2 separate regions of the Homo sapiens genome follow, and region 2 is linked to region 1. The links come from fine-mapping of genetic effects on gene expression. Tissue or cell type: monocytes. Region 1 holds a variant in brackets; the other region holds the start of a gene. All regions are shown on one strand. Distances are from middle to middle.

Region 1 (15,605 bases):
TCCCACTGGAGCAATGTACCCCACAGAGGGCAGGTACCTAGGGCCATCTTGGGTGGGTTTTAGGACTCTCAAAACCCAACTCAAACCAGCTAAGAAAAAACAGGAACAGACTGTGGCCCCTAAAATCACACCGAGGTGAGGACAGGGGTGGGGCCATCCCTGGAGCCAACTGGATACAGACACTGCAAGCCCCCCAGCCTCCAGCCTCTGTCACCATCACTGTGAGTTCAGCTTCTGTATGCCAGAGCCACATCTCCCTGCATAGGAGCGTGACTGGGAAGGTGTCACACGCCCATAACTGCAACTTCTCACTCCCGTTTTACAGATGAGCAAACTAAGGCCCAACAGAGGTCAGTGAGCAGAGCCATGCAACTGTTCCTCACCAAGATTTGACCCCCTCCACCCCTCAGACCAGAGAGTTTAGTTCCAGAGTCCAGGCTACACACAGGTGCTGGCAAAATGGGAATCTGCTTCTCAGCAGATAAAACAGTAAACAGACACTCTATCCTTCGAATGACCCTCATTCTGCTCTCATGCCCCGACCTGTACAGTGAGGATGCATTATCTGCACCTCCAAAGTATCCCCTTTTTTCCTGTCAAATGAATACATTGGTACCCTGGCCTCAGTGGCCTGCGTTTGTAGGATCTAAGTCCACCCCAGAATCTGGTGTTTGAGAGCTAGGCCCTGGCCAGGGGAGAGTTCTCCTCGGTCACGCTGGTTCCAGCCCTTGGGTACTGCTTCCTGGGTCCCTGCCACAGAGGACCAAAAGGACAGGGCCACGCTGGCCCTGCTGCCAGCCATGCCCCATCCACCGAAGCCCTGGGCTTATTCGATCAGAAGCCTATTCACGTGTGATAGCTTGAAGATTTTCTAAAGAAACGTAGCATCCAAGTTGGGCAAACTATTTCATAGCAACTAAGAGGCAGACCTGCCTCCTGGCACACATCTATGCCTGGGCAGATGGCAGCCAGGTTCAAGTTACTTCAAGTTCTTTTGAAATCAGGAGATCAAAGGCAGAACGGAATCAGCATTCCTGTTGGAGGTTCATCCGGGCCCTCCCTGGAATCTGCTGCTGTCAGGCAACTCCTCCCTCTGCTGACAATTCTAGAATCTTGTGTGGCCTTCCGTTATCTGAACCCAGCCCATCTGCTCTGGGGACCCTATGTCACGGCACTGGGATCAGAAGATTCTACTGGGGTCCATCCCTGCCAAATGCCTGACCCTTTTTGTTTTACTTGTTTTGTTTTTGAGACAGGGTCTCGCTCTGTCATGCAGGCTGCAGTGCAGTGGCGTGATCACAGCTCACTGCAGCCTTGACCTGCTGGGCTCAATCAATCCTCCCACCTCAGCCTCCTGAGTAGTTGGGGATACAAGTGTCACCAGCACGACTGGCTAATTTTTTGTATTTTTTATAGAGACCAGGTTTTGCTATGTTGCCCAGGCTGGACTTGAACTCCTGGACTCAAGTGATCCGCCCGCTTCAGCCTCCCTTGGATTACAGTCATGAGCCACCGCATCCAGCTTGACCTTGGTTTGATGACTTCAGCTTCTCTGAGGCACAAGTTTCCTCATCTGTAAAACGAGGCTGCTAATGAATATTTGGCTCAACCCACCTGTCCTTCAGAAGATTACGCAACATAACAAACCCAAGACAGCTTGGCAAACTATAAACCACTGTGCACAATTTAAATATAAAATAAGCCTGCAGGAGAGTTCTTCAAATCCTGTATAGTAACAGTTCTCTCCCGCAGCTTCCTCTTCGCCAAATCTGACGATGGCCCCAGAATTGCATCGTTTAAAAATGTACCCTCCAGCCCAGCATGGTGGCTCACACCTGTAATCCCAGCACTCTGGGGAGGCCGAGGCGGGCGGGTCGCCTGAGGTCAGGAGTTTGAGATCAGCCTGGCCAACGTGGTGAAACGCTGTCTCTGCTAAAAATACAAAAATTAGCCAGGTGTGGTGGCGCACACCTGTAATCCCAGCTACTCTGGAGTCTGAGGCAGGAGAATCACTTGAACCCGGGAGGCGGAGGTTGCAGTGAGGTGAGATTGCGCCACCGCACTCCAGCCTGGACAACAGAGTAAGACTCCATGTCAAAAAAAATAAAAAACAAAAAACAAAACACCTCACCCTCCTTTGAGAGCCAATTCATAATTCCTCTTCAAATGCAGCACTGAAATGTCCAGGCCGGAACACCAAGTTGCCCGAACGGTCCGTGAGAACTCATCTCTCCAGTCACCTGTACACAGGCTTCCCGGATGCGGCCTCTTGCCCTGGACTGTGGGTTTCTATTAACCTATCTAGGGGAGCACCTTCGACGTTCAGGCATTGTTCAGAATAAGACCAAATTCAATGAAAAACCTAAAGATAATTTTCAGAAGCCAGGTCTTCCCTGTTCTGTAAGCAAGCAAAGAGTATCTGTACTTAATGAAAAGCACAAGAAATAAAAGCTAAATAAAGGGAAGGAGAGTTTTACACTGGTTTCTGTCAAGTGTCATCTCCGTTTCAGCTGTGCACTCTGGCCAAGACATTGAGGCCCCATTAGGTCCCGCCTCGGCTTATCTTATCTCCAAGTGCGATAGGCTTGTCTTAGGCCTTCCTCCAGCTCAGAGGTTGTTAACGTTTTTTGAGGGTGCAAATCCTCTAAGGAATCTGACAAAGTCTCTGGACCCTCTCTTTAGAAAACTACCTCCACCCGTAAAGTTTAGCATGCAGTTTCAGGGGTTTCACAGACCCCCTCAAAGGGCCACGCCAAGGGCCCGGGAGCCCAGGATAAACACATCTGTTCTGTTACTGATAACAGCTACCTTCAGAAGACCAAGGCCGGGAAGAGCAGCAGATGCCCCAAGTCAAGCCAGAGCCTCTGTCAACACTGTTTATAATTAATTTCTCAAAAACTGGAGGCAGAGACGAGGTTGTACGTCCCAGCTCAGACACAAAAGTGGGCACCGTGTAAACGGGATTTATGGGCAATGATAAGGTAAGAAGGAAAAGAATCAAGTTGTGTTTACTGAGAGCAAAGTCCAGAGCTGCCTGGGGGAAGGAAAGAGGTCAGAACAAGGTGACGCCTGCCCACAAGCAGCTGGGGCGATGGGGAGACACCACCAGTGCAGAAAAAGGCAGAACCCACACAGAGGCTGCTGGCAGTGGGGACAGGCCCCAGTGTGTGGGGCACCAGATAGCGGGTAGGACCCGGCACAAGTCCCTGGCCTTTATGTCTCTGCTTTCTCTTCTGCCAAATGCGAGGCTGGGCTCTGTGATCTTTCAAGTCCCTCTGACCCTCCAACAGAGTGGAAAGGAGATTCAGAGCACACCACATGTGGGACTACAGGACCCACCTCTACGCAATGGGGACATGAACATCGCGGCTTGACGTCCTCCATGTCAGCGGCTCAGAGACAAAGCATCAGAGCCCGAGCCCAAGATCCAGGCTTCCCCTTCTGGCTAAGCCCCTCTTGGAAGGAGGGGCCCCGTGTTATTGACTCTGGCCAGTGGATCATGCTAATCCCTCCTCTGACCTTCATATCCCCTGGAACCAAAGGGCGGGGCCCAGATCAGGAGAGCAACCTGCATGGGAGAACGGCATGAATGAAACGTCAGGCACAGGGGCAACCCCCCAGTCACATCAATAACATGTTAACAGTGAAGCCACACAGCCCAGGCTCGGGGGCCCTCCATAAGCAGGTAGGAGAAGTGAGGCCCAGAGAGGCTACAGGACTTGCTTAACGTGATAGGGTTGTAGGGAGTTCCGAAAGGAAGGAAGAAGGGAAGGAGGGAGGGAGCCTGCAGAGAAGCCCAGCCGAGGATAAGTGAGTGCCACTTCCCCTATTGCCTGGGGTTCCCAGTGGCTGTCGCTGCCTGGCCCAGGCACACCCCCAGCCTGGAAACCCCTGTGGCCTCACCCCTCTCCAGATGGATCAGTGGTGGAGACCAGGTACAGGTGAATCAATCCACAGCGGACCCAGAGCTTGAGCTGGCCCAACCAGCTGCTTCTGAGACTTGGATGCTCAGAAACTCAAAAGCAGCCCAAGGGCAGGTCCTGCAAAGGGCTGCTGCGCATTGACTGGCAGCCACTCCTGGGCCAGGTATGTGCTGGTGGTGAGCAGCAGAGGCCGCGTGACAGAGCCAGCTGCACAGGTGAGAGGAAAGTCTAATTTTTGATGACCAATTCATTTCTCAAAGTTTGAGAAGATTCACTGTGCTCTCTTTCTGGATCATTCCAATAATCCTGCCCTGTTTTCTTCTTGAGCAAGTCTGAGGGTGTCTTAGATTCCTTTTTAGTCTTTGAGAACCTTCAGAGACCCAGGTTCCATCTTTACCAAGGAGAAAACTGAGGCCCAAGGAAATTGATTTATGTAACATGCTATTGTGCCAATAATTGAAATCTGTCTATGCTTGGTCAGAAGCTCTTTGCATAGGTATTTTTCTGACCCAAGAATGAAACGCATCCAGGTGCCCTTCCGAAATTGCAGTCTGCCCAGACAACTTTAAGGAATGAACTAACAACAGGGTGGGGGACAATTCCAAACACAGAGACAGGAAAATCAGGGCTTTTCTGATTTGATGGGAAGCTTCTTCAAAATGGGAGCAGATTTCAGCAAGAGATTCAAAGGCTCTTGAAATAAATAATAGCGGAATCTTTCTTTGACTGATGTCTTTTGTCCCCAAAGCCTCAAGTATGTTAAAAATCCCTCCTGTGAACTCACAACATGCTTGCTTTAAGAAAGGTGTAAGGCAGGCTAGTTATGACACCACAAAACAAGCCTCTCAAGAAGGCAGGCGCCGTTCTTAGTCCAATGTGTCGCCGGGAGTGCAGCTCACGTTTCTTTCTCCTCCGTCCAGATTCCCCAGCTTCCCTTCGGCAGCTGATGGCCTCACCAACGTGCATTTGCAGCGGTTTATTCACTGAGGCCCTGCGGACGTTGTCACTGGAATGCAGAGGCTTGGAGAGACGCTGAGCACAGCTTCCCGTTCAGCCGCTGCATGGCCTCAAGTGCCCTTCTCCTCTATTGGATTATCTGCTGATTACGGGGAGGTCAGGCCTTGGCAGGTGCAGAATCAGTGCCTGCAGGACACCTCAAAGGACAGTCCAAGCAGACCTGGTCATGCTATTAAGGACGCTGGCCTTAGTTTCTCTGTCCCAAGGATGTATGAAAGCCAGGATCTCTGTCACAGATCGAAGGCCATGGGGACATAGCCCAATGCAAACCTCAAAAGTAAACCAATTAGTGGTAGCCAGAGGCGGGGGCAGGGGCAACGGGTGTGGTCATGTAGTGAGTACAGGGTGCTCTTCCAGGGTGATGACGAAGTTTTGAAACGAGAGAGAGGCGGTGGTGACACAGGACCAAGAATGTACTCAATGCCCACTGCAGCGGTCAGCTGGAGGTTATGTGACTTTCACCTCGAAACCAAAACCAACAAACAAAAAGCTCACCAAACACACAAAGGGATAGGAACTTTGGAGAACCTCAGTCTGACGTGACCCCTGAAGACTTTCCACATGGTCCAGGCAGGAGGTGTGCAGGCAGAGCCTGCGTGGCCAGTCGCCCTGCGAAGAGTGGGTGACTCCGCTACCACCCATTTCTTCACTGCACCTTCAACTGTCGTGTGAATTTACAATCCCAAGAAAAAAAATTATGTTTACCTGTTCATTTTTACGTCTCCTGTTTGTGGCTCATGATTTATTCCCATTGGCCAGTCTAGAGGGGGTGTGGTACCAGCCCACGTGGTTCACGTGCCCCCCCAGGCACCCAGCTAAGCTAAAGGAACAGAGGAGTGGTTTAGGGGACACACAAATGCAGCCGGTCTGCAGGCTGGGCTCCGAGACTTTTTTATTTTTTATTTTTTTTTGGAGATGGAGTCTCGCTCTGTCGCCCAGGCTGGAGTGCAGTGGTGCAATCTCAGCTCACTGCAATCTCCGCCTCCTGGGTTCAGGTGATTCTCCTGCCTCAGCCTCCCAAGTAGCTGGGACTATAGGCGCCCACCACCACGCCCGGCTAATTTTTTTGTATTTTTAGTAGAGACAGGGTTTCACCGTGTTAGACAGGATGGTCTTGATCTCCTGATCTCGTGATCCGCCCACCTCGGCCTCCCAAAGTGCTGGGATTACAGGCATGAGCCACCGCACCCAGTCTTCTGATTCTTCTTAATCACCCTCTGAACTTGAACTTGAATGAAGTATTCTGGGTTTCTGAGTACTCTGAGATGAGTTTCTCATCTGTGAAACAGGCAGGGTGTTCCCAGGCCTTGAGCAGACACAACTACAGAGGGTGTTCAAGCCACCGGGGGCTGGAGCTCACCCTTCCCAGCCATCAGTGGGACAGTGGGAACAACCACAGGGGCAGGCCTTGTGGGGCCTCGATCTCCGCACCGGCTCCGTCCCCTAGCTGACACTCCCCGGAGGAGCAATCGGCCGTGCTCTGCTGCAGGCCTCCTGTTTCCTCAGTCATTCTGGTCTCAGGAACTGAGTCAGGGAGCATTTCTGCTGCCTCCTTCATCCTGAAGGACACCAGGCACCAGGATAAACTACCTCTGATGGTGATGACAGTGGGAGCAGGATCAGGTTAACAACTTGAACCCATGAGGTGGGAACTATGTGCAAATCACGAAATTTGCCACGGACAAAACTCGGGGCCTGGAAATGGAAACCCTGGGTAGCCGTGTCTCTCACTGACCCCCAGGCAAATCAGACTGTGACTATTCAGAGGCACCAAGAAAACACTACATGTATGCCTCTGGGAAAACAAGGCAAAACGAAAATCAGCTTAAAGTGTGGTGGCCTGTGGATGGTCTCTAACTGCTGTGGGGACCCACGCCCCCAAGCACCCCTACACCCCACCCAGAGGCACATGCAACGCTCTGCCCGCTGTATCCAGGGCAAGTCTGGGTGCACCTCCCTCACCGGGCTCCCGGAAGCCTGTGTGCCCGCCACGGAGACAAGCGGGCACCGCTGTGGGATGGCGGCACCCGTCCCACCCTCCCGTTCCTCTTCCCAGATGTCTTGCTGCCCCAGTAACTCTGGCACAGGGTCAGAAAAAGCAAACCACATGCGTGCCGCCCAAGGAACTGCTGGAGCCCGAGAGGGACCCCCATTAACCTCCTCCTGCTTTGCTCAGGATGGGGCCTGCTCTGGCGATGCCCCAAATGCAAAGTCCAGCGAGGCCAGTCCATGTGGGGGCCCAAAGAGAACCATGCCGCACAACCCCCTGGTGTCTCTCCAGTTTATCTACAGACAAGAACCAAGCTGCAGTGCTCGCCTTTGATTTTAGAAACCCCCGCTTTCTGACCAATGCCAGGCAGAAAGAATGCCAGGAATGTGGATGCCTTTCAGGAGGGTTCACCGCAGCCCAAAGAGACCACAGCCTCCAGGGCCAGGGGCTGCACTTATAAGGAAAGGCCTGCTGGTGGCCTCTGCCTGGGCTGAAGTGTTTCAAGTCGCTGAGGCCCCAGTGGGCGGAGGACTGACCCTGGGACCAGAGAACTCCTGAATTCCTCACGTCACTATGAAAAGCCCTGAGCCTCCTCCTGAACATCTCAAACCTTCTCTCCATCCTAAGGCACAGGCAGATACTGGAAAACAAAGAGACAGGACAGAAAGGGTGGGGGGAGAAGTTGAAATAAAATCCAATCAGCTACCCTCAGTTTACAGGATTTAAAGAAAAACCTGAAACAGTGCAAGTAGCTGCCTGCTTTATTTAGAAGGGCTTTTAAAATTCCAACGTGGCCCAGAAAGGAATCCCACTGTGAGCTGCGGCTTCTCAACTCCCCCTTTGGCCTTGAGCATCCAAACGTAGCGTTTACTTAGATCCAATCCTTTCTACTTGGTGGGGAAAGACTTGTATGTTGCTTTTCTAAAAAACTGGAGGCTGTGCCCGCCCTATGAGGTAGGTGATCCTATCCAACCGACTTTACAAAGGAGGGTGTTCCTTCTATTGCCAACCAGGAGTATAAAAGCCAAGAACAGCCAAGAAAACCTCCAGGAACATTTTACCAGAACACCATTTAATCCAGCTCTTCCTCACAAACACCAGCTGAGGCTTCCTTGGAACATTTTTTGCCAGCGTGTTTCAAGGACAAATGCTCCCCTGACGCCCCAGGGAGGGTGACCTCTAACCGCGGGTCCATCCCCATCTCGTCGCAGGGCGACGTGAGAACAATCCCTCCTTTGTGTACACACCACCCAACCTGGGCTCTGTCCCGCGGCTGCTGGGGTGGGGGAGCTGCTAGCCTGGCTTCTTGGAAGAGTGAGAACGTTCCACGGGTGGCAACAGAAAGTGGATTCGCTGAAAAGAGAAACACGGGGCTGTTCTGGGAATGCGCCGGGGCCGGGCTTCTGGATGCCAGGATGACAAATGACCTTCCCACACTGGGGACAACACTGTGGGCTTCGAGGACAGGAGGAGAGCGCCATGAGGGACAGGCCTGCAGTGCCTGAGAAAGGTCAAGTGTCACCAGAAGCTTCCAGAAGCATTCTCCCTCCTGCAGCTGCTCTGCACACGTTTGGGGCCTGTGTCCCCATGAGTCCGGCACCTTGGTCATGACATGGTAAAGCGGGTCCAGGTATGGCAACCCACTCACACCATGCCTGCACTGCCTACCTGGTACAGCCGCAGCCTCTCGCCATCAGAGAAGTCCCAGGACACGGCCTTCTGTCCAGGAGAGAAGGGAGACGCTGCAAGACAAGAAGGAAACACGAGTGAGCTTCAGTCCTGTCCAGCGCAGAACTCAGGCCTGCTTCCCGCCAGGGCCCCTTCACATCCTGGAGGACAGACGGGCTCTGCAGTGCATTTCCACAGCAGGTGAGGATGGTGGTGGACGCTGCCACGCGGCCCCCAGGTCCCCTTCTGAAGCCAACTCTGGAGAGTGGCCAGCGGAAGGACCTTCACCGGGGGCCACCCAGAACTGTCTCACTGGAAAGAGCCCTTTTGAGGCCACATCAGCCCCCTTCCTGGGCCAGCCTGCACCCAATGACCAGGCCAGTGACTAGCGCGGGGTAACAAAGCCTGCCCCTCACCCTACTCCTGAATCAGGGTGACTCGGCAGTC[T/C]GGCCCAGGCCAGAGCTCCTGTGGAGAAAGCGACAGGCTGCATGGAGGCTGCATCCCAGCCTCACTGTCCTCTTCCCCTGCTGCTGTGCTCCCCAGCAAACCTAAACGTCCTGCCCAGTGGCCTCTGCATCACGTTCCGCTTCACAGGGAGCCCTGCCTGTGACAATAGCTTATTGTGCCTTTTCTCACCCCAACAATGAGTCTCCCATCACCTGCCATTACTTCTGCTGCAATGACTGGCATTGTGAGCGCAACAGAAGCATCTTATCAGCTGCGCCCTGAAGATGAACCCCAGACACACCGCAGCAGTGGGGTCTCCTCCTCAAGTCACACGGCGCTGACATCACTACAGAGCCGGCGCCTTTGAGAGCAGAACCAGCCAACATCAATGCGACAGACGGAACTGCAGGTGCCACCACGACGCCCTCCCCCTCAGGCTGACTTCCTCCACAGGAATAACAGAGTGGGCCCCGGGGCCTTCAGAGGAATCCAGGACCTCATCAGACTGTGAAAGAAGGAGTGGGAACTTCCTTCTGGACACCTTCCCTCAATCATGGCCACTCATCCTCTGCAGGAACCAGACAGCCCAGAACAGACCTCCATCCATGTAAATATTTAACATGCAATTAAAAGGAGCGTCACAATCACCCAAGAAGGAAAGAATCATTCCCTGTGATGCTAGGACAACTGGCTGGTGTTCAGAGCACAGATCCCCCCTCTCAGGGCTTCAACTCACACCCAAAGACAAAATGAATTCCAGATCAATAGAAGGGTGTGGAGGGGAAGAGGGAGGGAGGAAAGGAAACCGCCCAATAGGTAATAGAAAATCTGGTTGTATAGTTGATCTCTACGTAGACACGGACCTTCTAAGGGTACAAGCGATGTGCAAAATCACACAGGCAAAATGAAAAGAATCAATGAACGCTACGAAAAAGGCCGCAACAATGTGACAAAATATATGCACAAACACAAAAGATCTGAAACCAGAGAAGACAAAAACAAAGGGTGGGAAGAGACAGGCGGGACTGCAGGTGCCACCACAGCTCCAACACAGCCACCTGCACCCAAGCTGATTTTCTGGACAGGAATCACAAGGCGGCCCCATTCTCGGCAGAGAAGGCAGGACGCCGCCATCCGTCCATCCCTCTCCTTTGAAATGGGTCTACCATGTTGCTCAGAGCTCTTCAGAATGTCTCTCAAAGTACTCGTTCTCCAAAGAGTCATGTCAAGACAGAACAGTTGAAAATCTCATCATCTTAAAAGACATAAAAGGGCACTGAAAAAAACCTGGGGGAAGTGAAACTACGAATGAGGCTGGCTTCATGGTATATGTCCCTGCCTTTTTCAGACTTCCGCAACTTCTCCCATTTCCTCTACCGTGAGCGTGCATTTCCCATTTTTTCTTTCTGATTCTAAAAGCCACTGCACCAGCATCTCTGAGAACCTAGTGCCTCTTCTTTCCTTTGTACCCCAAGCCCCTATGCCGTGGTCAGGGTTCTCAGAATCTCCATCCTGAATTCTAGGCAGGCACCGGCACTGCTGGGCCCCTTCATCAGGCGGGTCCATCGCAAGCCGTCATAAAGGACAGATGGGAACAGCCTCAGTGGGTATCCGCCTCCAGTGGCTGCAGTTACTACTGGGCCAGTGAGGAAATGAGGCGGGGGGCGAGTCCAGTGACACAGAACGGATCACCCCAAGAGAACGTGTGGCCCGAACATCAGCTCTGACGGGGGCTTCGAGAAACCGACCCCCGGGGCTCATCTCAGCCTCCTCACTCTGCCGGGGGCACTTCCTGAGACAAGCCCAAGGCAGGGACAACAAGCCCCACCGGGCGCTCCCCAGAAGGACCCAGCTCCCTTCACAGGAACTCCCCAGCCTCCCAGGCTGTGGGCAAGGCCTACTCCAAAGCCTGCCAGGTGCTGCCCAGACCCAGAGCCCACATGGCAGGAACACATCCATCTCCAGGTGCTGCCCAGACCCAGAGCCACATGGCAGGAATGTGTCCATCTCCAGGGGCTCCAGACCCAGAGCCACGTGGCAGGAACGCGTCCATCTCCTGGTGCTGCCCAGACCCAGAGCCACACGGCAGGAACGTGTCCATCTCTAGGGGCTCCTGATGCAGAGCCACACGGCAGGAATGTGTCCATCTCCAGGTGCTGCCCAGACCCAGAGCCACATGGCAGGAATGCATCCATCTCCAGGTGCTGCCCAGACCCAGAGCCACGCAGCAGGAATGCGTCCATCTCCAGGGTCTCCAGACCCAGAGCCACGCAGCAGGAATGCGTCCATCTCCAGGGGCTCCAGACCCAGAGCCACACGGCAGGAATGCGTCCATCTCCAGGTGCTGCCCAGACCCAGAGACACGCAGCAGGAACGTGTCCATCTCCAGGGGCTCCAGACCTAGAGCCACACAGCAGGAATGCATCCATCTCCAGGGGCTCCAGACCCAGAGCTACATGGCAGGAACGCATCCATCTCCAGGGGCCCACAATGCCTTCCTCCTTGTGACACTCCTCCCCCAGCTCACTTCACTCCACTTGGTCATGGGGGCTACTGAGGCCATGGAGCTGCCTGGAGAGCCGCCCTCCAGCCACCCCGAAGAAAACGACCTGCATGTGGTCCAGGGCCTCAGCCTCGCCATCCTCGCTGCTGCCCAGCCCTCCCCAGGCTGCCCAGCTCCTGCCCCCCAAGGCACAAAATAAATCTTCGCTGGAAACTCCAGATGCCACCTCGCCCCAACTCCAAAAAGCTGCTGTGCTCCTTTCTCTATTTAAAGAGAGGCTGCGCTGACAACACCCTCCGTCACTGTGGCTTTCAGCACTGATTATTTTCACATTTTTGGATAAGGGCCCTGCAAGCCCTCTGGAGCTTTCCTTCTGGCAGGTTCTTTAGGCAGCGTCTTTACTTAACAGCCTTGTGGTCCTGAAGCTGAGCCCGGCAGGCTCCCTGGACAGGGGGATGATTGGGTAAACTCATACCTCATGCCTAAGTATGGGGGGACCCAGCTGCCCTGACAGGGGGCTCAGAGACGCCAGAACTGGACCCTGGGCAGGGACAGGTGCACATGTGGCACCACTAGCCCCTCAGTGCTGGAGTGGAGGGAGGAGAGAATCTGGCTTGTCATGTCCGGGAGGTCCCAGTGGATGGATTCAGTGGACAAGACCGCTGGCCCCTTTCCACTTCCCCAACTCCTGATCAACCTCTCCAGAGGCCCAAGGCCTCTGGACAAGGACCGCCTTGCTGAGAAGAGGGGGGTACGATCTTTCAGTCAAGCACTGTTCTCCTGTGGGCACCACCAGACACCAGTGTGGACCCGTCAGTCTTCAGGGGCCCCAAGAAAACCACACGGTTTAGCGTGGGTGGATGGAATTAGCAGAAAGTCTAGAGGATGCCTTATTCTCCAGTTGTTTCAAGAAACATCAGTGTTGTCATTAACCATGATTTGGGGCAAATCTCCAAAAACCACAATGCCAAGAAGACAAGATTCTGTTGTCTTCAGCAGCTCAAAACACAAGTGTCTTCTCCCACGGTGCAGAGAGAAGGGCAGTTATGTCACTCTGTCCATCTGAGTAGCTGTTTTAACAATGGTTGACAGTCTCAGCTGATGACAAATCTGCAGAGAGTTGATCCCACCTCAGAGGGTCTGGGAGGGTGAGTGGATAAATGATATGAGGCTCATGGTCCTCACCCTACCACATCCAAACAGGAAGCTATATTCACACACAGAGATGACCACTGTGTCCTAAATCCTCATTCCAGGACAGTCACCAAGACAGCTATTCACCCCATTTCCCAATGGTATAGATGGAATTGCATCCCCCCAAATTTGTATGCATCACCAGTACCTCAGAAAGTGACCTTATTTGGAGACAGAGTGTTCAAGGTGCAATCAAGCTAAAGTGAGATTACCAGGGTGGGCCCCAGTCCAATATGACCCAGTGACTTTATAAAAGGGGGGAGTTTCAACAGACATGCACACAGAGAGGGACAGGTGACAGGATGACTAAGATGGGGGGTGAGGCTTCTACAAGCCAACAGCTACCTGCAAACCCCCAGATGCTAAGGGAGAAAGGGCTGGAACTGATTCTCCCTCAGCCTCAGAAGGAACCAGCCCTGCTGACACTCATCTTGGACTTCCAGCCTCCTGACCTGTAAGACAATCCTTTTCCACTGTGCAAACCACCCAGCAGTTTGTGGTTCATTGACAACAGCCCCGTCAAAGTAATTCTCACGGCTCTGCCCATCTCAGAGGTTGCTGAGGGAGTGACAGATCTGAAAATGCTCCGTGAACTCTTCACCCAACTCAACCTACAGGCTGGCCTGTGCTGACCACACCAAGAGCTGGTCCACGCTGCAGAGCTGAGTCTTTCAGGGCCAGACCCGCATGAGTTCCCAGGGAATATGCAGGAACACACAAAACTAATTTTGTTCCAACAACTTCAGGTATGGGCCCAAAAGTCCAACCCACTTAGTTATGGGACACATTCTTGAAGGGTTGAGGTGAAGCAATGTTAGGCTGGTGTTGAGTAAACTGGAAAACGTGTAAGCCTATTTCTTAGATTTTTTAAGCCTCCACAGTGGACATCAATGGAGCCATCGGCCAGAAGAGCCTCTACAGCCTGCATCCCCGACAGCTGGATGACTGGGGTCGCTCCAGCCTCACCCACCACCATACATCAGAGCCAGTCAGTAGAACCAAACTACAAAGTAGAACTAAATACACGCTGAGTACCATTTATCCAAAATCCCTGGGACGAGAAGTGCTTTGGATTTCAGATTTTGGAACATCTGCACATACACAATGAGATATCTTGCAGATGGGACCCCAGTCTAAACACTAAATTCATTTATGTTTCATCCGTACCTTATACACATAGTCCAAAGGTGATTTTATACAACATTTTACATAATTTTGTTCTGGAGTTTTGACTGCAACCTGTCATGTGAGATTAGGTGAGAAATTTTCCACTTGTGGCATCACGTTGGTGCTGAAAAAGTTTCAGAGTTTGCAGCATTTTGGATTTCAAATTTTTGGATGAGGGGTGTTCACCCTGAAAATTCTTGTCCAACCCAGAGGCAAACTACAGCCCGCGGGCCAAATCCAACCTGGCCACCTATCTTTGTATGGCCCATGAACAAAGAACGTCTTTCTATTTTTAAACAGTTGGGGGGAAAATAAAAAGAGTAATATTTCACGACGTGAAAATGATAAGAAATTTAAGTCGCAGTGTCCTTACCTAAGTTGCACAGAGCCCAGCCCCACCAGTTTATCAATAGCTCTTCTGTGCAACCAAAACAGTGGAGCTGTGACACAGACCTTATGGCCCACAAGGTGGAAAATAGTTACTCTCTGGCTTTTTACAGAGAAAAGTGTGCCAAGCCCTGTTCTCTACCCTTCCTACTTACGCAGTGGGCAAAGGGCCAGGCGGGATGTAGGCTCAGGCCAAACGGAAGTGGGCATTCACCCGGGTACATGGCTGCATGCCAGGAGTGTTTGCCAAGAGACCAGCTAGGGTAGGAGATGGCAAGAGGGAAGGAAAGAAAAGCAGACGTAGGTGTGGTCAGAAAGGGAGACGGGAACGGGCCCAACATCCATTTCAAGGTTTCTTTCTAGAGCTGGCTCCAACCTCAAAAAGAGGGGAGGCATCTCTGGCCCCGCTCTGGCAGCACAGTGACGCCATCCTCCTACAGCTTCGGGTTCGCACAATCAGTCCTCATGCACGGCACGTCCAAGACTACACAGAGACTTCATGGCCTGGCCATGGACCCAACCCCAGGTTTTTCATTCTCTATGAGGGCAGATCATTCCACTCCGAGACAACCAATTTACAGAACTGAGAAAGCGACACTCTGATAGATGGACAAAAGCCTTTCTACTTCATGCTATCAAAATCAACACTATTAAAACTTACACACTGACAACGTATTTGGGCAACAGATGGATGAAGCAGCCAAGTGAGAGGGCCTGAAATCTCACCTGATGGATGTTACATTTTCTTATGCAGAACACAGAACTGCTTCACTTACCCTTCCTGTAATTACATAAAATTTCCAATTTTACAGAGAATGTGATACGGAATGGGATATAACCTTCCTCTCTCCTGTGTTAAACCTAGAATGAATACTAAGCATAAAAATGGAGGAGGGGCGTTGAGACAACCACCCACCCAGCACCCGCAACGGCTTTGTTCACCTGTTCATGCGTCCCCCCTACACACCGTGAGCTCCTCCTGGCACCCGCGCAGCACCGAGTGGCTGCCTTCTCTGAACGCCCTCCCTCCCTGGCAGGGCGGTGGAGGAGGCGGAGGCCCCCTGCCTTTGAGTGTGAAGACGGGAGGACAATGAGACACAGGGCCCACTACACCTGTGTGGCCGGAAGACTACTTTCTCATTCCCCTTTGGGCTCTGCTCCCCTGGCTGGAGCTGGGGTCCTTGTTGTGGAAATTTTACATATTTAATTACTACATAAACTGATGGCCAGGGGTGAGACAAGGGCAGCTCCCTTGGCAATTCAAGTGAAATGTTTCAGAAAGACTCGCTAAAGGTGAATCACTTAAAAA
Region 2 (15,605 bases), 44 kb after region 1:
AGGCAAGGTAAACCTACCTGAATTAAAAATTAAATTGCACAGAACTACGGGGATGGCCACTGGACAGTATTTATAAGTAAGCCGTTTATTATTCATAGGGAGGAATTACTTCTATCATATATTGTAAGTTTTACTGCCAAGATGTCAAGAAGAGAATATTGGAGTTGTCACTACATGGCTGTATGAAGTCACCACCCTAAGTTTTCACCTTGTCCAGGCTCTCTCTCTCTCTCTGCCAGCTCTTTCATGCACTGGGCATGGTGTCTGAGGGGCTCCTGTGTATGGAGGATGCAGAGATAATAAAATGCAACTGCCCCCAAGCAGCGCCCTGCCTAGGGGGACAACAGACAGGTAAGAAAGCTAGGACACAGGCAGACCCAGGTGCAGGTTCCTCGGGTGTGTCTGAGAAGGCAGTGTGAACTGGGCCTGGAAGAGCAAGTGAGTCTGCTGAATTGAGTCTTAAGGACAAATGGGCCCCCCAGCCAGCCCTCCACAAAGGCTAGTGGGAAAAAGTTGCAGATGTTATGATCTGAGAAAGCATTTGGGGAAGGTCTTTTAACCAGCTGCTCCTGGTGATCAGCTATTCACACCCAATGCTTCCCTCTCAGCATCTGCGGCCACTCCCCACCGCACGGGTACCCCAAGGAGAATTTTCCGCCCCTGCTAGAATCCCAGTCCCTCTGACCCAACCCTGGCTCCCTCCTGCCCTGTCTCCACACCATCAAATACGGTCCAATTTCTTTTATCACCAACATTCTTCTGCGTGGCCTCCACTCTGTGCTATTTCTTCTATTATAGGAGTTTCTCCACTACCACAGTGACAGGGTTCCAGTCCTCCCGTTCATAAATCCTCCGCACATGATAGACTCAGAACTGTCCCGTCTGCTTTGAGCTCTCAACCCCCTCTCCCCCTACCCCCATCTTTCTCCTCCTTGACTTCAGGGCCCCGCAGGGCACTTGTTCTCCCATCCCAGCTGCTCCTCCACTGGCTCCCCCTTAGCCTTCCTGCCCCTTCTGGGGGTGATCCAGCAGTGTGATCCTGGCCCCTGCTCTTCACTCTAGGTTCCCATGTATGAGCTCTTCCACACTCACTGCCCAACTCTAAGGAAGTGAGCCCAGGACCGCCCTCTCTCAAACAGCCCTCCTCTGGCCAGCAGGACAGACCCTTCCCCAGACACCCCCCCAGGGCGAGCACCTCCTTGAATCCTGCACCCCAGGGGCCTCGTGTGCCTCTCCCCAGTCCCAGCCCCGCTCACCATGGCTGGCTCTGAAGTTGAATGACTTTTCCCTCCCACATGCTTACTGCCTCCAAGGAAAGCTCTCACATTTTAAAATAATTTTACTGGTAATTATGATGGAGAAAAAATAATCAGCTTATGTGCGCACCCAAGCTCAAGGACTCTTACAAAGTGTTCAGCTATGGTCCTTGGGCGGTAGGGTTTCTCTTTCCTTCATCTGGGTGGTCCCAGTAAGCCCCTCTGCTTTAATATCTGAGAACAGCTCATCACACCCACCCAGGGGGTCTGCCTGGCTTCATCCTGACCCCCTGACTTCCTGGAAGGAAGACTCTTTTCCTTTCTAGACCAGCAGAAGCAACCAAAGCCAAACAAGTATGTGGACCTCATCAGTGTAGGACACGTGCCCCTGGAGGAGGACAGACCTGTTGGGGGGAAGATGGGCTCCGCCTGCCTCTCCTAGCCCAGCACTTCCTCACCCTCTACGAGGCCTTAAGGAAAAACATTCCCTGCTCTGCAAGGGAGATCTCACCTCCTTGGGCTCAAATACACAGGGTCTGCCACGCCCTGCCCCAAACTGCACCCCCTCAGCTTTCTTCTTGAACAAATTCATCACCACATCCCTGGTGTTCAACGTGGATATACATTACAGTCACCCGGGAAGCTTTCCAAATCTACAGAGGTCTGGACCCACACCCAGACATTCTGATTCAACTGGGGATGGGCCTGGAACATGGATTGTTGTTTTTTTAAGCTCCCGGGTGATTTTAAAATGCAGCCTGAGTTTTGAAGCCTTCTACTCTTGCTGGCCAAATTCGGTTACTCAGTAGTACCCAAATCCTTTTTCAGTACTGCTCCTAGGCAGACATGGACCAAGCAGAAGTGAGGCCACAATTTCTTCCATTAAAGTGATGGGGGTGACGGAAGGGGAAGCAGGGGTGTCGTGTGGGTGGGCTCAGTGCAATGAATGGTGAGCAGGACCCAGCTCTTCTTGGCTCACACAGATTGTTAACTATTTAGTAATGTTCCCAGCCCAAACTGGCAGTTTGAAATCAGGCTGGGCATGGTGGCTTGCATCTGTAATCCCAGCACTTTGGGAGGCCAAGCTGGGCCGTTCACCTGAGGTCAGGAGTTCAAGACCAGCCTAGCCAACATGGGGAAGCCGGTCTCTACTAAAAATACAAAAACTTCTGGGCGTGGTGGCACATGCCTGTTGTCCCAGCTACTCAGGAGGCTGAGGTAGGAGAACAGCTTGAATCTGGGAGGTGGAGGTTGCAGTGAGCCGAGATTGCACCACTGCACTCCAGCCAGCCTGGGTGACAGAGTGAGACTCAAAAAAAAGAAAAAGAAATTAGCCATGGTGGGAATATTTACGTCACAGAAATTGGCAGATACTGCAATCGAAGCTCTGCTTTCTCCTCAGAGAGCAGGTTTACCGGCACACTATGAGCTCAGGGACCTCCTACATTGGAGGGGCTAGAAAAGCTTCCTGCCTGCTCATAAAAATGGGGCAAGGGCAGGGCAACATACCTCACACCTGTAAGCCCAGTGCTTTGGGAGACCAAGGCTGGAGGATCACTTGAAACCAGGAGTTCAAGACCAGCCTGGACAACATAGCGAAACCCCATTTCTACAAGAATTTAAAAAAAAAAACTACCCGGGCGTGCTGGTGTGCACCTGTAGTTCCAGCTACTCAGGAGGCTGAGGAAGAAGGATTGCTTGAGCCCAGGAGTTGAAGGCTGCAGTGAGCTATGATTGAGCCACTGCACTCCAGCCTGGGCAACAGAGAAATCTCAACTCAAAAAAAAAAAAAAAAGAGGCAGGGTTGTCCTCAGTTATGCAGATTTAATAAAAACTTGGAACCATAAAATCCTTTCAAAGGAAGTATTCTTCTCAATCTCTACAGAAGAGTTGGGCTAACAGGCTTCAGCAAAGAGAGCTCCCCTGAGATAAGCTTTTATTGCGCAGATAAGAATAATCTCATTAGTATGTCATTTATTTGATTGTAAAGAGGAAGGTGGAACCCTTATTGTACATTTACTTAACCGCCTTCCTATAATCTTAATCTCATTCTAGTGACCCCATGTGCCCAAACACCCTCTTTTCACGGGACAAGGAAAGACATCGTACCAAATCCTGGGTTATCCCAACTTCAAAGTCACAATCTTCCAAATAAACCTTGCTTCGCCCTGGTGACGGGGTGAGGGTTTCACGAACAAAGGTGCAAAATGGCTGCCTTCCATTTAGGCTGAGAAAGCGTCACATGTTTTAAAGATTTCATCACCTTCAGAGTACAAGCTATTTTCTAATTGTGTGAGGGAGGCTGGCACTCCGCTATTTGCATGCCTGTATCTTCAGGCTCCAATGTGTGACTGAGAGCCGTTTGTTTCTTTAATTTCAGCACCCCGGGAGATGTGATGACGAGCTCTGGACTTGGACAGATCCAGGTTCAAATCCCAACTCAAGCACTCATTAAAGTCTAAGGTTGGAGGAGTTTCTTAAATTCTCGTAGCTTCCCTGTAAAATGAAACCCCTGGTAGTTTTCGTGAGGATTCAAAAGGGCACACATGCAGCCTAGCATATGGTAAGCCCTCAACGAGTGGTACCTATTTCCATCCCTCAAAATACCCCAAACCTTAAATTAGAGGAATTCCATACAGCAATTCTACTTCCTCAAATCCATATGCTTCCTGATGACTTCAGGAGGCACTGTTCACCTGGAAGATGGGAGGCTGTGATGTTCTACATGGGATTTTACCCTTCTTAAAACACGGCACACAGCCTCTTTCTAAAGCATATTCTGCACTCCCTCGCCCTCTGAAGACTGATTATTGAGACTTTTTCCCTTTAGCGAGGTCACGGTGGGATCAGGTGCTGGGTTATGTAACACGTGGACGCCCTCAGGGCCCACCGAGGAGCTGGTTTCGGCTTCCTGGAGGATACTGAATCAAGTAGCTGGATTGTTCCCTGGGTATTTGGGGGCTAGATGAATTGTTTTTCTGTCACTGCTCCACAGGGTGGTGGCAGAATGTGAGGCTTCTTTCGTGCAAATAGCTGGGGAGCCCAGAGACCTAGCCCAGCTCCCCAGAAGCTGAGTGTAAACGTTGCTTGGCCTGAGGCTCGCTCCTGGCCAGGAGCAAAGCTGACCCGCGCACTGAGAGTGCTCTGAGAACTCTATTTAGTGATCGGTGACCTTTTCGGATTCCTGGTTGTCAGGCGGCTACCTCGCAACAGAGAAGACCTGATGCCCACCTCCAGGGCCTTGGGAAATGTCCCAGGGGCCTGAGTCCAATTTGCAGAAGAAAAATCACAACACAGCCCAATTTAGGTGTGCAATTTGAAAATAATAAAGCTAAGGGAAATCCACATGGCTGGCCAGTTGTAAACAGCAGCTCCTACTCGGTCAAAACAAGGCTGGTACCTGAAACGAGGCTGGAACTGGGAGGTCTGCCTGGAGCCAGGGTCCAGGGACGAGGTCTGCCAGGGCCGCACTCTGGAGCTCTCAACCTTGTTTGGGTCAAGGGCTCTGTAAGAAGCTCCCCAGGAAAAGAAAGCACACACACCTCCCACGCAATTTCAGGGGAGCCAGGGGCTCTTAACTGGCCAGGATCCCAGGATTTAAAACCAGGAACACCTCCCAGGATTCAAGGGCGTAAACCACATTCACCATTCGCATATCTTATGATCAGACTAGAATCCAGCATTAGAATAAGAAGAAAGTCTATTCAAGCAGCCCAGAGGGAAATAATTCCAGGCTGCCGGATTAGCAAACAAGAGCAAGGGAGAAAAGCCAGGAAGGTCCTCCCTCCACAGAGAAAAGTAAGAGCACAATACATGAACAGACAAGGCACCCGGTGAAGGATACTTTATCAGCATTTTTTTCAGCCCACTTTCTGGGTCTTTCCAAAACCCCCTCTTGAGCTGTGATCTGCAACTAGACAGACCCTGATCAGATCCACGTGCTGGTGGAAAGGACAATTTAAAAAATGAAACTATCAAACGACAGACGGTTACAGAAAGAGGATCTTCTACCCTGATTACTTTGTTGTTGTGGGGGTGGCATGGGTGCTTGGGGACAAAAGGCATGCTGTGAAGTACCTCTCCCCACCTGGGCCTTTGGTACCCAGAATTAACAAATGGCATGGGTTCTTATTTATTGTTTTATAAGATCACTAAAATGTAGTCTTGGGACAACAGGAAAAAAATAATAATAAAGCTCACAGAAGTGTCCTGGGCTTCTCCGCAGCCGGTCATTGTTCATTTAGTAAACAAGTGAGCCATACAAATCTCTAGGAAGCCAGGTTTGTTCAGTTTATGCGTCCTCCCAGAACTAACTGTTCTTTTGGATAAGCACGGCCCGGGCATTCCACAGACCCACAAACATCAGGCAGTGGGCAATCTGGGGTCCCGCCTAAATATCACTGCCCCCTTACTTTAAGAAATCCGCCTACAAGCAGAAAGCAGAGGTGGAGGAGGGGGATTGGAGAGCGCTGCCTCTTCCCAAGCTTCCCACTCTGAGGGATTTGGCCGAGTCCCGAGGGCACTGAGCAAGGAACCAGGAATATTGTCCTCAGGGCTCCACTGGACATTCCTGGAGTCTGTTTCCTGGGCAGGACGGCCAGGTGAGAGGCAGCCTATTACACTGCATGACCACTGCAATGAGGAACAGTAGAATGTTCCCCAGCGCCTTAAAGTACAGCCGCTGTCCATCCACGGATGTCAAAACGCTCTGCAAACCACCCATTAATTTTTATGGTGGCTTGAGAAGCAGATTGAGAATCATTACCTTCATTTTTACAAGGCAAGGAACCAAAACCACAGAGGGCGGTGAGGATCCAGGCCTCTCCCATCATTTCATCTGGGCCACGGATCTCAAGGAAAGCCCCCAGCCCACTGGGAAGGGGACTCGTGGCCAGCAGAGATTCTGCCCGGGTAGGGAGCAAGGAAAAAACCCAAACTTTGGAGCTCAGAGACGGTCACAAGGGTGAGAAGGGGCGGCTGCATTCAGGGATTCTCTGGTTTAGGCAAGAATGGCTCCAGTTCTAACTTAATGTTCAAATCTGCCAGGCTGTGACAAGGCTGGTAAAAAATGTGGGATTGGGGATGGTTTCCTGTTTGCTGTTTATATTTCTCTTTATCTCTAGCTTTCTGTCCTGAGCATACATTGTTTCTGTAATCAGAACAAAAGTTATGCGAACTTTATTATTATCACGGATAAATTCTATAGTTCCAATCTGCCTACTAACTTGGAAAGAATAAGCAGGAATACAATCTCGCACAGTGTTCTTTTTCAGATCTCATCGATCCATCAGGCTCCACGACCCTCTGCTCGCTGAGTCCGGCGGCTCTCCCGCGGCTCCTCCCGCGCGGCATCTCTGGGCGCCCGACACCCGGTCAGGGCCAGCTGGGCCTGTCCCCAACCCCCGTCTACACCGCAGGCCCCGGGCTAGGAGCCGCGGGACCCAGGGTTGGGGTCCCAACTGACACCCGCCCGTGCCGCGGAGCGGGCTTCTCGGTAAACATCGCTCAGAGAACAACGCGCCTCTATCCCAGCCGGTCCCCGCCCGCGGGCCGCCGGCGCTGTCACCTCGCGGCTGCTCGGTCACCCGATCGCCAAGCCAGAAACCGGAGTTTTCAATTTCATCCTCACAGGAGGGATCTCCGAAGAAGTTGAAATATGCATTGTCACCAACAAGTTTAACCGGAGACCGCGCGTCCTTCCCTCCTCCCCAGCGCCGCTCGAGGGGGGCGCCCCGACCCCTCCACGCCCTCCCGTGGCCCCCACGGCCCCCGTGAGCCGAGCGCGCCCCCCGATTTGCGCCCGAGGACGCGTCCGGTTGCCCAGGGAGGCCACCCCGCAGGGCCGCCCGCCGGGAAGTGGCCAGAGCCGGGGTTGGGGGGCGGCCCGAGCGCACGCGGAGGGCTGCGGCTCGGCGCCCGGAACCCCGGGCCGGGTCCCTGCCCACCAGCACCAGGGAGACCCGAGCGCCCGGGGGAGCGGCGAGGGGCGCGCGAGGCTTCCCCGAAGCCGCCCCACGCCCAGGCACCCGCGCAGCCCCGAACTCAGGCGGCGGTGGCACGATCGGCGCCCGCGGCACGATCTGCGCCCGCAAGGGAGTGCAAAGCCCCCGAGCACGACCCCGCGCCCCCGCCGGCCCCCAGGGCCCTGCCGCCCGAGGCGCTCCCCGCCGCCGCCTGCCTACCTGGCTCGCATGGCGTCCCCGCCGGCTCCTGAGGCTCCGCTCGTCGGCCAGCGGCTCGGCCCAGCCGGGGGCGCGCGCGGCTCCGCGGGACTCACGGCGGCGGCGGCGGCGGTAGTGGCGAGGGGCCCGGACCGCCGAGAGTGCCGGGCGCGCTGGGCCCCCGCCTCGGCGGGCGGAGGGTGGTCCCGCGCCTGGGCGGGGGCGGGGGCGGGGGCGGGGGCGGGGGCGCGGGGGGCGGGGCCAGGACCGGAGCTGAGGCCGCGGAGGGGGTGGTCCCGCGCCGGGGCGGGGCTTCGGGAGAGGGGCGGGGCGGGGCGCGGCCGTCTGAGGCTGGCGAGCGTGGGGCGGGCTGGGGGTGGTGCCGCGGCTCCGGGTCCAGGCGGGTATCCAGTCTGGGCGCCTCCTCTTCTTCCTCCGCCCGGAGCCGGCCAGGGTAGCGGGGCCTTGGCCGCCCGGCATCCTCGGGTCTGGGTCCCCGGTACCGAGCAGGTCTGGGTGCTGGCCCGCGCTCCTGTGCCCCCCCGCACCCCCATCTCCCACCCCTTCTCCGGGAACCCCTAGCGAGGACCCCTGGGGCGGTGCGGTCCCCCCGCGAGCGGGCGTGGGCGAGGGTCGCGCCGCGTTCGGAGACGCTTTACTACACCTTGGCTGAGGACAGTGGAGGGAAGGCAGGCGCGAGGCTGCGGGGGCCGGAGCGAAAGTTACAAACTAACAACAGGGAAGGCAGTCCGGCTGAAAATCATAAAAGGAGGAGAGTTTCCTGCGAAGCGGAATGCAGATTGAAGGGCTCTGGTCGGAATCGTTTACACTTTGTCTGACCTGGGCGCCTCTGGGCCCCCGGCGCGTAAAACAGGCCTGGCACGTAGTAGGCGCTCCATCAATGCCCAGTGAGTGAACGCACCACTTAACTATGTGGCCAGCAACGTCTATGGACCGACACATCTAATCCTAAAAAAAAAAAAAAATCCCAATTTTGGCTAGTCCATTTCACACGAGTAAACTAGAGCTCGGAGGGTTGGTTCGCCACAGAGGAGAAGGGTAGAACCAGAATCTGAACCGAGGCCGACTCCAGAGGCTGGGGTCTAACCACTGCGCCACTGCCTGGGGCCCTCGGGACTGCGCCCACCCCCACCCCGGGAACCCGGAGCCCAGGAGAAAGCGCGGGTCTTTGCCGGGGAAGAAGCCAACATTTGTTGCTCCTGGTCCTGAGCGAGACACACACAGTCAGTCCTCACCATTAACCCCGAGGCAGATATTGTTATTGTCCCCGTTTTTATAGGTGGCTTGAGACGTGCAGCACTATGTTATGATCGCATGGGGCGTGCCAGAGTCTGAATTCAAACCGGGTATGTTCAGACTCCCGAGCCCCTGCGGCTGCCCCTAAGGCCTGCCGCTCCTGCCGTCTGGGAGACCTTCCTTTCCCTAAGGAATCTGGTTTTCTGCCACTCCATTTGAAGTCTGTGTTGAAGTTTCAGGAGACACAGGTGGACAGAGGCACCGACCTAGGGCTCGGGAGAAGGGTGGACATTGCTGTTCCGATTTTGGTGTCATCTGTGTGTAGATCATGGAATTCCTGAAAATGGATACGAGTATCCCTAAAATACATGCCGCAGATTTTGAAAGGAGGCAGTGAGGCGAAGGGGCAGGTGGAGGAAGCAGAGAAGCCTCCGAGCAGAGGAGAGTTTCTGGGTGGCTAGGAGGTCTGATTGGTGTAGGGATGTGTCTGGAGTGTGCTTGAATCTCTGGCAAGTTATCTCGCCTCTCTGTGACTCAGTTTCCTAAATGAGTGTAAAAATGAAAGGCAGCATGTAAAGTGCTCAGCAGACTGCCTGGCACACAGTAGCTTTCAGTAAGTTTTAGCTACTATTAGTACTGCTATCCCAAATGACATCCACACTGTGTTTTTTAAAAAATGCCTATAAAAACATTGAAAAAGACAAGCCAGTAGAAAATGGACAAAAGCTATGAAGGTAATTCCTGAAATGCCACAAATGGCTCAAAGCATGAAAAGCTCCTTGACTATACTAGTGAGGGAGCTAAGGCAAAACATACACACACAAAAAACAATCGAATAAGAAAACTCAAGGCCTGTCCAGGCAGCTCAGTTCACTGAGCAGAGAGGGAGAAAGATACCCTAAAAACCACAAAGAACAAAGTGCCATGGAAACGCAGAATAGAACATGAATAAACAAAGCATTACAGATTTCGCCTGGGGAAGCAGAGAGTGTGTCTTACGATGTCCACATATGTATGCGCAGTACTTGCTATAGTCATGCCTCAAGCATCCTCAAACCAGTCCACATCCTAGAGAGGAATTAACAGAGGTCAGAATGTTTAAACAAAGTGGTTAAAAAAAAAAAGAAAAAAAAAACAAGAACACATTACCTTATATTCTTACTACAGTAACTGGAATTCTTCTTCAGCTCCTATGAGCCAGGGAGACAACATTACTGGTTTAGATGTAAGTTGTTTATGAACTGTTTTCTTTTTGTATCCTGGAAGGCAGAAAGGTCTCTAGATGTTGCTTCCTGTTGAATGTGTGCTTTTTTTCCACCAGTTTTTGTTACTTGCTCTTCTAAAGGCCTCTGGATCAAAAGAAAAAAAAATGAGCTATTCATTCATAACATTCAATTATTCAATAAGCCTTTCCAGTGGGAACACATACAGCAAAATCAATAACTTGGGTTTTTATTTTTTTTTAGTACAGAGATAACACATTTGTTTCAAAGGATTAAAATGATTAGAGAAATGTGTAGAGTAAAAAGTAAGCATCGATCCTAAGTTCCTACCCTTTCCCAGATTCCATAGTTCACAGTGAATTATACTCTACCAGAGGTTTTCCCCAAGCGTTTGCACGCGTTGGGTGCGTGCATGTGTAGATGATACATATGTGCGTGATGTGTGTGGGTATATATACGTGGACATGCATCTATGTATAAAGACAGTGTGGTAGGTTCTAAAATCAGGCTGCCCAGCTTTGAATGCCAGACCCACCACTCACCTGCTGGGTGACATAAAGCAGGGCCACTCAGTACCAGTGTTCTCACCTTGAAGTGGGTACAGTGCTCCCCAGGATTAATGGAGGTGCTGCATGGAGACTGCTTAATGTAGTGCTGGGCGCACGGCACATTGTTTACAAATATAAGCTGTTACTATTCGTGTTTACACACACATATACGTTATTCTTTGTTTCACATTAATAAGTTGAAGACAGTGAAATTTGGATGTCTCAAAAGGACTCCACTTGGCAAATCTCTCGGTGAGCGCTGGCTCCTCTGTGTTGGGGTGTACTCAGCGGCTCTGTTGTCTAGGAAAGTAAGATGCACACAGATGAGCAGGGAAAGATTGGGGTAGGTTTGACAGTCAATGTGCTGCATCTGTTACTAACACCAGCAACAGTTCAATCACACCAAGCACCACCAATTCATTCCAAGGACTTCTCAGAATAGATACAACACTCCCAGAAAAAGCAGCCCGGGCAAGAATAACTCCCAAGTAATATACACTATCCCAAACTCTACATAAGCTCTCTAATATGTTATAACATTCTGACCACCTATAAAATACACTTCATATTAGGAAATAACTACTCAGAAATTGCATGTGGCCCATAATGAAAATATCTCTCTATGGACAAAAACATTCTCAGCAATGAAATAAAAAGAATAATGTTCTTCTGGTGAAGTGAAATCATTAATGATCAAAATGCCCATGTCACAGGGAAAATAGAATACAAATGTACAAAACACAGCTAAAGGGCAAAGAAGAGCACAAGGCATAGGATATTTTTCAAATGGAATCTGTAAGAGTAGAAATTTAATCGTCAATGTGGGTGAATGGATTTTTAAATTAGTTGCCTCTGACTCAGAATGCAGAGAGAGGACCTGTTATCAAAATGCAAGCCTAGATACATACCCTCTGTTGGTGATAAAATTTGGATATTTGTTCCTTCAAAATCTCATGTTGAAATATGACTCCCAATGTTGGAGGTGGGACCTGGTGGGAGGTGTCTGGGTCATGGTGACAGACCCCTCATGGCTTGGTGCTGTCCCCCCAATAGTGACTGAGTACTGGGGAGATCTGGCCTTTGAAAGTATGTGGCACCTCCCCCTCTTTCTCTTGCTCCCACTTCGCTTTCCACCATAAGTAAAAGCTCCCTGAGGCCTCATCAGAAACTGAGCAGATGCCAGAGCCATGCTTGTACAGCCCACAGAACTGTGAGCCAAATATATCTCTTTTCTGTATAAATTACCCAGTCTCAGGTATTCCTTTATAGCAACACAAGAACAGCCTAATACAGTGGATTTAAGTTGAGGGAGAAAATGCTGCTTACATGATTCACAAGCCTACAGAATGACATTCATTTGTTCAAGAAATACTTATTGGACATCTGCTGCATGCCAGCCCCGAGCGTGGCCCCAGGGAGTGAGAGCCCTGGTGAGACAGAGGCAGCTGAGATTCCAGAGTGGACCCAGGCAGAAGGGGAACCACAAAGCCTACAGGTGGTGATAAGCATCCTAAAAGAAAGCACAGTGGGCTGTGAACTAGGATGAGGTGAGACCTGCTTTATGTGGGAGGGCTGGAGAAGGCCCTAGGGGAGGTGACATTGGACCCGAAGGGAAAGGAGTGGAGAGGGGCGTGCTGGGCAGAGGGAACAGCATGTGCAAAGACCCTGAGGCTTGAAAGCGCTTCACACCCTCAGGGAACTGAAATGACACCAGTGAGGCTGGAGAGAAAAGAATGAAGTGAATGGAAAGAGGGAAAGAGAGAGATTCCAAGGGGACCGTGTTGGGAAATGGGGGCTCATGGGGCATCTAGATGCTGCCCATCCTCTGTAACTTCCCCAGCAGCTTGGAGAACGTTACTTTGCCAAGAATTCAGTGAGACACTAGCTATAAGAGAGAGCAAGACTTCGGTTTTGCCAGAAAATGTTGGGTGATCTGTTTGCCATTCTGAGAAGCCTCTATCCTTCCAGTTCTAAAAAGCTGTGACAGGGAGCCCCACCACATGGCTGACTGTCCTTAATAAATGTATATGCACTGGGCCTGGGCACTGCGGCTCACGCCTGTAATCCCAGCACTTTGGGAGGCCAATGTGGGTGGATCATCTGAGGTCAGGAGTTTGAGACCAGTCTGGCCAACATAGTGAAACCTCATCTCTACTTAAAAAAAAAAAAAAAAAAATAGCAGGTGTGGTATCACATGCCTGTAGTTATAGCTACTCAGGAGGCTGAGGCAGAAGAATCGCTTGAACCTAGGAGGCGGAGGTTGCAGTGACCCGAGATCGAACCACTGCACTCCAACCTGGGCGACAGAGCAAGAATCTGTCTCAAGAAAAAAAAAATTCATATGCAGTGGGACATAACCCAGGCATCCCAGGAGCATACAGAATCCAGAAGGGATGCAGAGACAAAATGATCTGCTGAAAAGAGTTCTGTGGCTTTAAGGAAACTTCCAGAAATACTTCTAAACAAATATTCATTACCTTGCTCATTTACTCACTTATCCATTCAACAAATATGTGTGGAATGCTTACTGTGTGTCAGGCAGTGTGCTAGGAGCTGAGGATAGGAAGATAGGTATGTTCTAGATTCTTCTACTTAAGGAGTACACAGTTGCTATCATTCTATATAGTTAGTCTATAGAACGATAGTTGGATAAGTGTCAGGGTACACAGAGGAAGGCCACCTGGACCCATCCTGGATGTAGGTGGGCATGGGTATCCTCAGGGATGGATGATGAAGGGTGAATACGATTTGTTAGTAGGCTTAGAAACAGAGCTGGGGGGCCGGGCGCCGTGGCTCACGCCTGTAATCCCAGCACTTTGGGAGGCCGAGCGGGCAGATCACTTGAGGTCAGGAGTTTGGGACCAGCCTGGCCAACATGGTGAAGCCCTGTCTCTACTAAAAATACAAAAATTAGCTGGCTGTGGTGGCGTGTGCCTGTAATCCCAGCTACTTGGGAGGCTGAGGCAGGAGAATTGCTTGAACTGGGGAGGCAGAGGTTGCAGTGAACCAAGATCGCACCACTGTACTCCAGCCTGGGCGACAGAGCGAGACTCCGTCTCAGAAAAAAAAAAAGAGAAACAGAACTAGGGGACAGACATCCCAGGCAGAATCTGCAAGTGCAAAGTTTGGAGGTTTGAGGAAGTTCCAGGGAAGGAGCAAAGGGCTTTCTGTGTCTGGCAAGGAGAGTGGGATATTTCTGCGAGGCCAAGGAACACCAGGCCAGACATGCAGGTTACCTCAAATCCCAGAAAGTCCTGCAAAGCATAGAATCAAAACTGTACAAGGCCAGTTGTCTGCACGTTAATATTTCAATGTCAAACTATGAAAATTTAACAAAGGCATTTTGGTGAGTTTGGGAATGTAAAAAAGAGGTGACAGGTTTGCAATCCACAGCCAGTCTTGTGATTAAGAAATAGCACGAACAGCAGAACATTCTGCCCAGAGGGCTGAGATTTACTCACACTTGTTCCTCTGGTTCACACATGGCTTTTCCACATGGCCTGGGAGAAGTTGCTTTATTTCTTAAAAAAAAAAAAAAAAAAAAAAAAAAATCAGGGATGGGCGCGGTGGCTCATGCCTGTAATCCCAGCATTCTGGGAGGCCGAGGCGGGCGGATCACATGAGGTCAGGAGCTTGAGACAGACCTAGCCAACATGGCGAAACCCTGTCTCTACTAAAAAATGCAAAAATTAGATGGGTGTGGTGGCGAGCGCCTGTAATCCCAGCTACTCGGGAGACTGAGGCAGGAGAATTGCTTGAATCCTGGAGGCGGAGGTTGCAGTGAGCCGAGACGGCACCACTACACTCCAGGCTGGGCAACAGAGCAAGACCCTGTCAAAAATAAATAAATAAATAAATAAATAAATAAAAAAAAATCAGTAACTACTAGTCATGTCAACATGGATATCAATTGGATTTAAATAGGGATTTAAATTGGTGTTTTCCATTTACATCAAAAAAGGAGAAAGATCTCAAACAACTTAACATCATGCCTCAAGGAAATACAGAAAGAAGAATAAACTAAGCCCATTGTTAGTAGAAGGAAAAAAATAATAAAGATCAGAGGAGAAATAAATGAAAGAGACTAAAAAAAAAATACAAAAGATTAATAAAACCAAGAGTTGGTTTTTTGAAAAGATAAATGGCCAGGTATGGTGGCTTATGCCTATAATCTTAGCACTTAAGGAGGCCAAGGGGAGGTGAATCACTTGAGGCCAGGAGTTCGAGACCAGCCTGGCCAACATAGTAAAACCCTGTCTCTACTGAAAATACAAAAATTAGCCAGGTGTGGTGGCGTGTACCTGTAGTCCCAGATACTCGGGAGGCTGAGGCATGAGAATTGCTTGAACCTAGGAGGTGGAGGTTGCAGTGAGCCAAGATCTCATCACTGCTCTCCAGCTTGGGTGACAGAGCACGACTCTGTCTCAAAAAATAAAAAAAAAAATAAAGAAAGAAAAAGAAAAGATAAACAAAACTGACAGACCTTTAGCTAAACTAAGAAAAAACGAGAGGACAAATAAATAAAGTCAGAAATACAAGAGGAAATAATACAACGTGATACTACAGAAATATAAAGGATCCTAAGAAACCTCATGGTTTCACTGCTGAATTTTACCAAACATTTAAAGAATAACTAATACCAATCTTTCACAAACTCTTCCAAAAATTAAAGAGGAGGAAATACTTCAAACTCTTTTTATGAGGCCAGCATTACTCTGACACCAAAACCAGAAAAAGACACTACAAAAAATAAATCAATACATAAATAGGTAAGTAAAACTACAGGCCAGGATCCCTGTTGAACATAGATACAAAAATCCTCAAAAAAATACTAGCAAGCTGAATTCAGCAACACATTAAAAGGATCATTCACCATGATTAAGTGGGATTTATCACAGGATAGGAGGATGGTTCAACAAATGTAAATCTACAAATGCAATACACCACATTAACAGAATGAGGGACAAAAACCCTGTGATCATCTCATCAGACACAGAAAAAGCATTTGACAAAACTTGACATCCTTTCATGATAAAAACTCTCAACAAATTAGGTATAGAAGGAATGTACCTCAACACAATAAAGAACATATATATATGGTAAGCACACAGTTAGCCTTGTACTCAATGGTGAAAAACTGAAACCCTTTCCTCTAAAATT

Which allele goes with the higher level. Positions count from the first base shown, and alleles are read on the strand shown. Sizes are in standard deviations (SD) of each study's normalised expression.
With allele C in place of T in region 1, the expression in monocytes of the gene that starts at base 7,592 in region 2 is lower (moderate effect, 0.65 SD a copy in Quach 2016).

The links. PIP is the estimated chance that this variant, and not a neighbour inherited with it, causes the effect.
Region 2: SH3BP4 starts here. The variant in region 1 is fine-mapped to the expression of SH3BP4 in monocytes (Quach 2016, PIP 0.95). The same link has a PIP of 0.9 or more in monocytes after LPS and monocytes after Pam3CSK4.

The regions. Positions count from the first base shown.
Region 1 is chr2:234,988,370-235,003,974 of GRCh38, reverse strand. SH3BP4 (SH3 domain binding protein 4) reads right to left here. Exons shown (of 6, transcript NM_014521.3): 2 at 8,599-8,672. Among named protein-coding and RNA genes, the nearest start is that of SH3BP4, 44 kb to the right of the region's middle. RefSeq lists enhancers at 483-1,321, 3,775-4,451, 4,567-5,196, 11,959-12,730 and silencers at 6,296-6,590, 7,216-7,510. The variant T/C (reference allele first, on the strand shown) is at 9,046.
Region 2 is chr2:234,944,004-234,959,608 of GRCh38, reverse strand. SH3BP4 (SH3 domain binding protein 4) reads right to left here and starts at 7,592. Exons shown (of 6, transcript NM_014521.3): 1 at 7,439-7,592. LOC105373938 (a long non-coding RNA gene) reads right to left here. Exons shown (of 7, transcript XR_007088132.1): 2 at 13,907-13,966; 3 at 10,486-10,745; 4 at 9,824-10,023; 5 at 9,674-9,742; 6 at 8,258-9,011; 7 at 7,810-8,170. RefSeq lists an enhancer at 6,490-7,139.